Homo sapiens: one gene and its partner. The protein of the gene in region 1 interacts with the protein of each later gene in a pairwise test. Each region holds a gene or a part of one and is shown on either strand. Other genes may lie near its edges.

Region 1 (4,541 bases):
CTCAAGGTCTGAAATGGAAAGTGCAGCTGGTGATTCTGAGTAGTATATTTTATGAATTGATGAGCAGGGAATTTCTAGGTATCACAGAGCAATCAGCAGCTGAGGAGAGAGCGACAAAACCAGGACTCTGACAGGGCTTTTTGGAAACTTAATTTTTGGAGCAATCAGCAGCTGAGGAGAGAGCTACCAAACCAGGACCCTGACAGGGCTTTTTGGAAACTTAATTTTTTATTGTCAAATTATACAGACAAAAATGAAAGTAAAGGTAGTGAGGAGTACCACACACCTTTACTTAGAAGGATAAATAAAGGACACCTTTGTAGGGAGAAAAAAAAAGATATAGGACGAAAAGTAAACATGGCAAGGTAGACTCAGAATACAAAATTTCAACAAATAAGTGCGAGAAAAAGAATGAGAAAGAATGAGTATTGGAATATTACAGATAAAAATCCTTGGTGAGAAAGAACACTCTGATGAAACAGGTGACATAATTACTGAGTAAAAGCAGAAGACCAATCAAGGCAATTGAGGCTTGGACAGGTATTACAAATTATCTTAGATGAATGTATAATTGTGGCCATTTAATTATCAGTGATGACAATTACAATATTTATTAGAAGAAATAAAGTAGAGGATGAATTCTATGGAATATTCTGGAGAAAGTGGAGGTCTTAGCTATATGACATCGTGTGGCTCACTTAGGGAACCATATATTCAGTTTGTTCAGGTCTAGAAATTCCTTGGTGGTTTCTGAGTTCAGTTTTGCTTTAATAAACCCTAAAGATATTTTTAAAATACAAATATTTTAGCTTGCCTGTGTTGTATAGCACCAAGGCTTGCCTGAGTGTAGTGAGATTCACAGAAGTTTGGACAATTCTTGTAGCCTGAGCAGGCTGCCAGCACCTTTCTCTCATATATGTGTGCCTGGGAGTGTGCTGTCCTCACACATCTCACAGATAAGCAAGACCATCTCTGTTACATGAAAAATTTAGCTAAATGTGAAAATATCCACGCACACACATCATGAGAGATGGAAAGAGGCTATCAAAACAGTCAGAGATATTGACCATCTTCACTGTTAGCTGTAGGATCAGTGTCCACCCCCCGACACACCCACACAAACTCACATACACAGAAATGAAAAGCACAGTGAAAAGCAGAATAGCAGTCTTTCCAAACAGATTGAAAACCAAAAGATGTCTAAAGTTCAATCCTGACACTGTGCCGACTGCTTGGACACAGTTCCGTCAAAACATTTGTCCAAGTCATAGTTGTGCCTTTTAGGAATTAGACACAAACAATATCCTACCCAACCCTTCCTGCTGAGCTAGAGTCCCAAAAGAAATGAGGGATACACTTGACCTGAAGTAAGCAAAGCAGAAGCCAGTCTCTGAGGCGAGGAGGCCCACCTGGTAGGGAGCTCAAATGCACCATTGTCCTGCTTGTCTTTATAAAGGGAGCTGACACGTTTCTCCCAGCACAAAGTTGGGAGTGACACCAGAGCCTCCTGCAAGATGCTTCTGATTCTGCTGTCAGTGGCCCTGCTGGCCTTCAGCTCAGCTCAGGATTTAAATGAAGGTAAGATGAATTGGGGGAAGATATTGTGACTCTGATTGGGGTTTACAGGCAAATGCTATAGAGGAGGAAAGTGGAGGGAAGAGAGGAGGATGAGAAAACAGATGGGACTGCAGAGTTCTCATGCTGAGGATCAGAAGATCTATTGTACCTCCATTCCTCATCAAGGCCTCATAGTTTATTTGTTGCACAAATAGAATCCAATAAAGAATTCGTACTAGGGGTGTGAGAGAGTGAGATTTGCATTATATAGAGACATGGGACTGCTGTGAAGGATGTGGAGAATGCAAGACAGATTCAGGGAAGTACAGCTGTGAAGATCCTGTACTGATCCCAGTAGACAGGGATGATGGTGGCCTTGCTGTACAGTGGATGAGCATTAATGAAGGAGATAAACACATGTCAGAGCTACTGCCGAGGCAGAGAATTGGGTAAACACTTGTCTCTGTCTACATAGAGTTAGAGAATAACCAGAGTGAAACATTGTCATTTTTCTGTCTCCTGAATGTAGTATTTCAATGTGCTGGGAATGGCATGCGTAAGATTATATCCAAGTGGCTATGTCTGGTGGCTCCTGTTGAGAAGGCTTGCAAACATAAACAACATATTTACAGATGAAAGAGGGCAGAAGAATCCCCAAATATGTCATTGAAATACTCAGAGCAGTTTAACTAAATAAGCGCTAAGGGTTTACAGGCAAATGCTATAGAGGAGGAAAGTGGAGGGAAGAGAGGAGGATGAGAAAACAGATGGGACTGCAGAATTTTCATGCCGAGGATCAGAAGACCTATTGTATCTTCATTCCTCATCAAGGCTTGGGGAATCAAAAGAGGACAAACAGGGGCCCTTCTATGTTGAGTTCCTGGTTGACGCTCAGTGTAGTAACAATACTGCTTTCCCTTACATCTTCTTCCACTTCCAGTAGCATCAGAGAGTGGCTGATGAGATCACAAAGGGGATGCACAGGGTGTGATCAGAGGTCCTTTATCCTCGTAGAACACTATGAGCCTTGAATGATTCAGGAAGTAACTTTTCCCATCATCCTGTACTTCTTTTCTAGATGTCAGCCAGGAAGATGTTCCCCTCGTAATATCAGGTAAATCCCAATAAATTCTCAGTAAACTCTGTCTCCATTTTTCCCTGAAAAATTGATGAGTTCTCCAGTGTCTTCTTATCACCATTTTCTTGTCAGGAATTGGCTAATACCAATGCCCCAAAGATACAAACAGTTTTCTCCCAACCTTGATTCTGGGGACCATGAGTAAAGAAATTCAATTTTTCATCACCCTTATGTGGATTAAGAGGAGTTCTAATTAGGAAGCCTTGGGAAGGGGGGAGGTTGGGAGTTGAGAGGCAGGTCAGGCAGAGAGGGGCCGGCCGTGTGGTGAAGACAGAGAGGTATGAAGACAGGAGGGTTTTCCAGCATGAGCTCAGCTCTTCTTGTTTCAACTCACACAGATGGAGGAGACTCTGAGCAGTTCCTAGATGAGGAGCGTCAGGGACCACCTTTGGGAGGACAGCAATCTCAACCCTCTGCTGGTGATGGGAACCAGGATGATGGCCCTCAGCAGGGACCACCCCAACAAGGAGGCCAGCAGCAACAAGGTCCACCACCTCCTCAGGGAAAGCCACAAGGACCACCCCAACAAGGAGGCCAGCAGCAACAAGGTCCACCACCTCCTCAGGGAAAGCCACAAGGACCACCCCAACAGGGAGGCCATCCCCCTCCTCCTCAAGGAAGGCCACAAGGACCACCCCAACAGGGAGGCCATCCCCGTCCTCCTCGAGGAAGGCCACAAGGACCACCCCAACAGGGAGGCCATCAGCAAGGTCCTCCCCCACCTCCTCCTGGAAAGCCCCAGGGACCACCTCCCCAAGGGGGCCGCCCACAAGGACCTCCACAGGGGCAGTCTCCTCAGTAATCTAGGATTCAATGACAGGTACGATTCCAGTTTATTATCCATCAAAGGCTCCAACTGCTACAGTTCTCCAACTTCATTGTGCCAATGAATCCTCTGAAAACCTGTTAATATTGCCCTGTCCTGGAACACATTTCTAAAAATTGTTATTCAGATATTCTTGTATAGAGTATCAAGACCCTGTGACCCTGTGTTTTACAGAAGCTCTTGAAGGCAATTCTGATTTTGAGAATCACTATCTTCAAATTACATGTCTTAAGTAGGGTTGACAATGAGGACATAGAACCATGTTCCCCCTTTGGCTCTCTCTATTTTCTTTCCTCAAACTCAGACTCCCATTTAAAGTTTTCACCTGAACATGCTTTGCTCAGTCCTGCCTCACATCAGGCTTTCAGGTCCAGTATTCCTGCTAAGTGGTCCTTGAACTTTCAGTTGTAAAATGGTATCTCATTTTTAGTATACTTACATTTAAAGTCATACATGCTTAAGCTAACAAAAACTAATCTCACTGAACCGAAATGTACAGAGCTAAATAGTAAGAGCCTAACTCATCTTTCCTCCCTTCTATCCTTCTCAAAACCCCCACCTTTTACTCTTTGGAATCTACTTTTTGAAATATATATTGCTACATAAATATATATAATGCTTTTATTACAAGCACTTATACCATACTGTATATTCAGATTTGTGTCTTACTCACTGGAAAAATTTATTGTTTAGAAAACTTTCTCATGAGTTCATTTAGATCTCTTCAGTGTTTATTGGTTAGTTTGTTTTTACAATTGTATACTATTCTATTGTTTGGTTGTTCCGTAATCTATTTAACCAATCCCTGTCACTGGATATTAAGGCTGGATTCACATTCTCACTATTATATGATATGTTGCAGTGCCCATCTTTGTAAAAATAGCCCTTACATAACCAACAGCAGCAAAGCATGAACACATAACAATAATTGTTTCTCTTTCTCATCTAAGCAACACTTTAAATCACATTATGTGCAATGGCTTAAAGAGTGAACAAAGAAAATATTACTAAGGAGAAGGG
Region 2 (3,827 bases), on another chromosome or scaffold:
TAACAAACCTGCACATCCTGCACATGTACCCCTGAACTTAAAAGTTGAAGAAAAAAAAATCTAAAGATGAGGCTATGTCCTGTATTTCTGTGGCATTCTGGTTTCAAAATATTTTCTCAGTTATTTCATTGTCCTTTAACCTTCCTTGTGAGATAAAAAGAGGAATTATGATCACATTTTAGAGCCAGCCAGGCATGGTGGTGGGTGCCTGTAGTCCTAGCTACTTGGGAGGTTGAGGTGGGAGGAACCCTTGAGCCCAGGAGTTAAAGACCAGCCTGAACAACATAGTGAGACTTCATCTTTCTACTAAAAAAAATTAGAGCTGTGGAAAAGAGGCTTACAGAATTTGAATTAGAAAGAAACTTTTAGGATTACAAATTTTGATCTATAGTTTGAGTAAGATTACATGGCCTGCCAAACAGTCAGTTCTCAGGCATCCTGTCTCCAAAGTTGCTCAGACATCACTAGGTCATTGAACCATCATGGGACCCTGATGAGCTTGATGTAGACAACTTTAATTTTTTCCTCTGACACATAGTTAGAAGGAATATTTTGATGAGCTGTGGGGAGAGATGGTAGGACACATTGGAGATGTCAAAAACTTGGTTCTACAGAAGTGGGTCGAGTTAATTTCAGGGATTTTGTTTACTAAGCAGAATATGCAAGCTTCGGGGCCAGAATGACTTGTTCAGTACTCTTAAGAACCATGGACATGGCCTAACATATATCCAAACATTTGGATGACCCAAACACAATGGCCAATATTTGATATTTGCTTTTAAGGAAGTGTTTAGTTCTCTTTTCTAAGTATTTATCTTGACTATCTGTAATTTCTGATGTTTGTCAACCTGGACTCTAAAGCCAATATAAATTACAAAATTAAAGCCCAACCAAAGTTTAACTTTAACCTTTTATCCTTGCTGCCACAAGACATCAAGCAGGCCAAGAGGATTGGTGCTCTGTATGAAATTGTTCTTTTCCTTCAGACCTTTACATGTGTGCTGGTGGCTTTGCTATATTAAATATGAACAGACACTGAAACTCTGTCACAAAGAAGCAATAGCGTTCTATGTTTTAACTCACAGGCCAATTCTGACTAGATGATGACAGATGGTGGGTGCTCTGTGTTGTGAGAGATTAGGAACCATGTCAAGATCATCAGGAAAGAGTACTGTGATTGTAGGAGATGGAAGAGGTGGTGTATGTGCCCTATATTGGCCTCTTTCTATAGAGCATACCCTCAATTAAGGTTGCTTCTTGCCTCCATTCTGAGTTCTCTTAGGTCTTCGGCTAGTTTTTTGAGAGCCTGTTATTTGTATGGCTGAATGAGAAGAAAGTAGATTGTTCCTTAGAGTCTAGTTTGTTTGTTTAGGGTTGGAATGCTCTGTAATTATAGCTGGTACTGTTCTTGGAAAATGCGCATGGCAAGATTGGGTATATATTTGGTGCCTTATAGTTTGCTGGAGATGGCTTTGAAAGGCAATGACACTGTGAGGAGCTGAAGAGAGAATGGAGTGTTTACCTCATTATTTTGGCTGGTATGCTCTTTTTCCACAGGGTTCATGCTCACGAGTTTTGATCTATGAAGATAACAGCCAGGACAGAAATTGAACAAAGTGCACTGAAATATTCATACTACACTATGGTTATTTTAAAAAAGCTTTATATTCTAAATCTGTACTGTCCAATATTGTAACTACTGTCTACCTATAGCTATTTAAATTAATTAAAGTTAAATTAATTTCCTCAGTTGAGTACATCTTTTATGTACTCAATTGCCATATGTAGTTAGTTTTACCTACTAACTAGCACAGAAAATTCTACTGGGCAACCTTTTCTAGAATCTTGGCTTAACAGTTAAGCCATAAACCAATGTTCAGCAGGGATCTTGAGTGACTTGAAGGTGTCCTTTAGGGGCAAGGACCTACAAGTCCTAGGACCCTGGACTATATATATATAGAGAGAGGCTATATGCAGTTTTGATCTCTTGTTCTTGATCTAAGGATTTAAAAATATTTCATAAATAGAAATACTTCTTGACTGCATTAAGATTTAACTTACAGAGGGGGTCAAGAAATGGAGATGAGGTTTTTGGTTTGGATTTCTCACCATTTAGACTCTTGACAAACTCATTGTACTTTGAGGAGTGCTTTCCCATCTCTAATTTTAAATGTTCGTAGTTCAATACAGTGTACAGTTCTGATTTATATAATGTGGTAGCTGTAGTATGAGTCTAGAGATTAGTTTCATGCCTATCCCTTATGGTTGGGTGTCCATATATTTGGGGGAAGTGAGGATGGTATTAATGAAAAGGCCTTTCTGTGATATATAAGGAATACCCTACTTATCAAGGTGACTGACCACCAACTCTTTCTAAAGTACATGTTTTTACTCTTAATATCAACCCGAATAATAATGTGATAATGTGATAACATTACGAAGGGAGATGTGTTTCTGTGGTCTTTTTAGAAGGATGGGAGAATGACTGGAAGTTTTAAGTTGGTGTGATCTACTGGGGTCAACCAGATCACTAACAGAGGGCAAAGATATGTGGCGTCGGGACTCATTCAATTCCAAATAGAAATTGGTCTGAGAACTGTTTGCTCTGACTCAGGCTGAGATGGAGTTTCTACCAAAACCAGGATGTTCCTTTGCCAAAGCTCACACTTCTCTCTCAAGGAACAGAGCCTCTAGTTCTTCTTCTATTTTCTTCAACGTTTCCTGGTACTTCTTCAAAGAGAAACAAAGAAAGCCACAGTTACTACTTAGAAGGTTTACAATTTTTCTAAGCATAATAAGCACTTGTTATTACATGATACCATGAATGCTTGGTATTCCCACTGCCACTTTCTCTGCTTTCATAAAACTCACCCCCCTACTACTCTTGATCTCTCACTATGCCTTACCACTGGACAGGTTTCTGGGCATCATTGACATTATAAATAGCAGAAGTGTGAATTATTAACTTAACAGCACAGAGAGTGGGAGAGCAGGGCAGGAATTCCCAGGGAGACAAAGACAAATAGAGTGATATTGATAGTGAGGTGGGGTGCTGATGACCTTAAAGTATCCTAGTAGTGCCACCTTGAACTGTTGAAATTGCTCTGGACAGTAGTCTTTGAAAATCCTTGTTCTATTTCATCCTGTACCTTAATAAACCCTTTGCTATCCCTTTACCAAGAAGCTCTACCTTTATGTAGAGGGCTTGATCTTCACAGAGCTGGGTCACAAATGCATACTCCTTCATTACCTAGGAAATCAAAATTTAGTTGTAAATATATTTCGGTAAATTGCTATAAGAACACAAGCATACTTGTTTTCTCTTGGGTCCCAGGTCCTAAATGTGGTTTTCTAATTGTTCTAAATATGTTTTCTTTTTTGCTGTACAGATAAATGTATTTCCTTTTTTTAGGGTAAAAAAGCTAAATGGGAGTTATTGGTCAAAGGTGGAATTTGGGGGCAGTTGGGAGAGGAATAGATAGATAACTAATATTTGCGAGATACAAACTGTAGAGTGTATTCTGTAAAAAAATGTTTGAAGAGAAAGCAACCTCAGGGATTGTGCTTATCTTCCTTTTCTTTACCCCTCCCTAGCCCCATCATGGTCTTGGATCTGGAACCTTAATGTAAATCAATCACTTGAGAAATAGATTGCCTGACCAAAGATCACATTTCCCTTTTTGGGGAGAAGTCACATTGAAGTTCCTGCTGTTACCTTGAGCAGCTCCTTCTCTTGGCATGCATAGGAAGCTTCCAGCTGTTGTAACTTAACCTAAAGAAAGCAAAAGAGACTGCTAACTTGGCAAGGTAAAAGCTGTGCAGGAATG

Evidence for each region. The genes of interacting proteins can lie anywhere in the genome.
Region 2: the proteins of PRH1 (region 1) and TMCO5A interact in a two-hybrid assay, tested with the Homo sapiens proteins (one large-scale study listed by BioGRID).

Annotation. Positions count from the first base shown.
Region 1 is NC_000012.12:10,881,191-10,885,731, reverse strand, and holds the start of PRH1 (salivary acidic proline-rich phosphoprotein 1/2 isoform a preproprotein), read left to right. Parts: upstream 1-1,476; 5' UTR 1,477-1,514; coding exon 1,515-1,578; intron 1,579-2,635; coding exon 2,636-2,671; intron 2,672-3,033; coding exon 3,034-3,497; 3' UTR 3,498-3,515; intron 3,516-4,541. UniProt on the Homo sapiens protein: PRP's act as highly potent inhibitors of crystal growth of calcium phosphates. They provide a protective and reparative environment for dental enamel which is important for the integrity of the teeth.
Region 2 is NC_000015.10:37,941,094-37,944,920, reverse strand, and holds part of TMCO5A (transmembrane and coiled-coil domain-containing protein 5A), read right to left. Parts: intron 3,773-3,827; coding exon 3,716-3,772; intron 3,251-3,715; coding exon 3,191-3,250; intron 2,731-3,190; coding exon 2,666-2,730; exon of another isoform or gene 2,634-2,665; intron 1,581-2,633; coding exon 1,523-1,580; intron 1-1,522.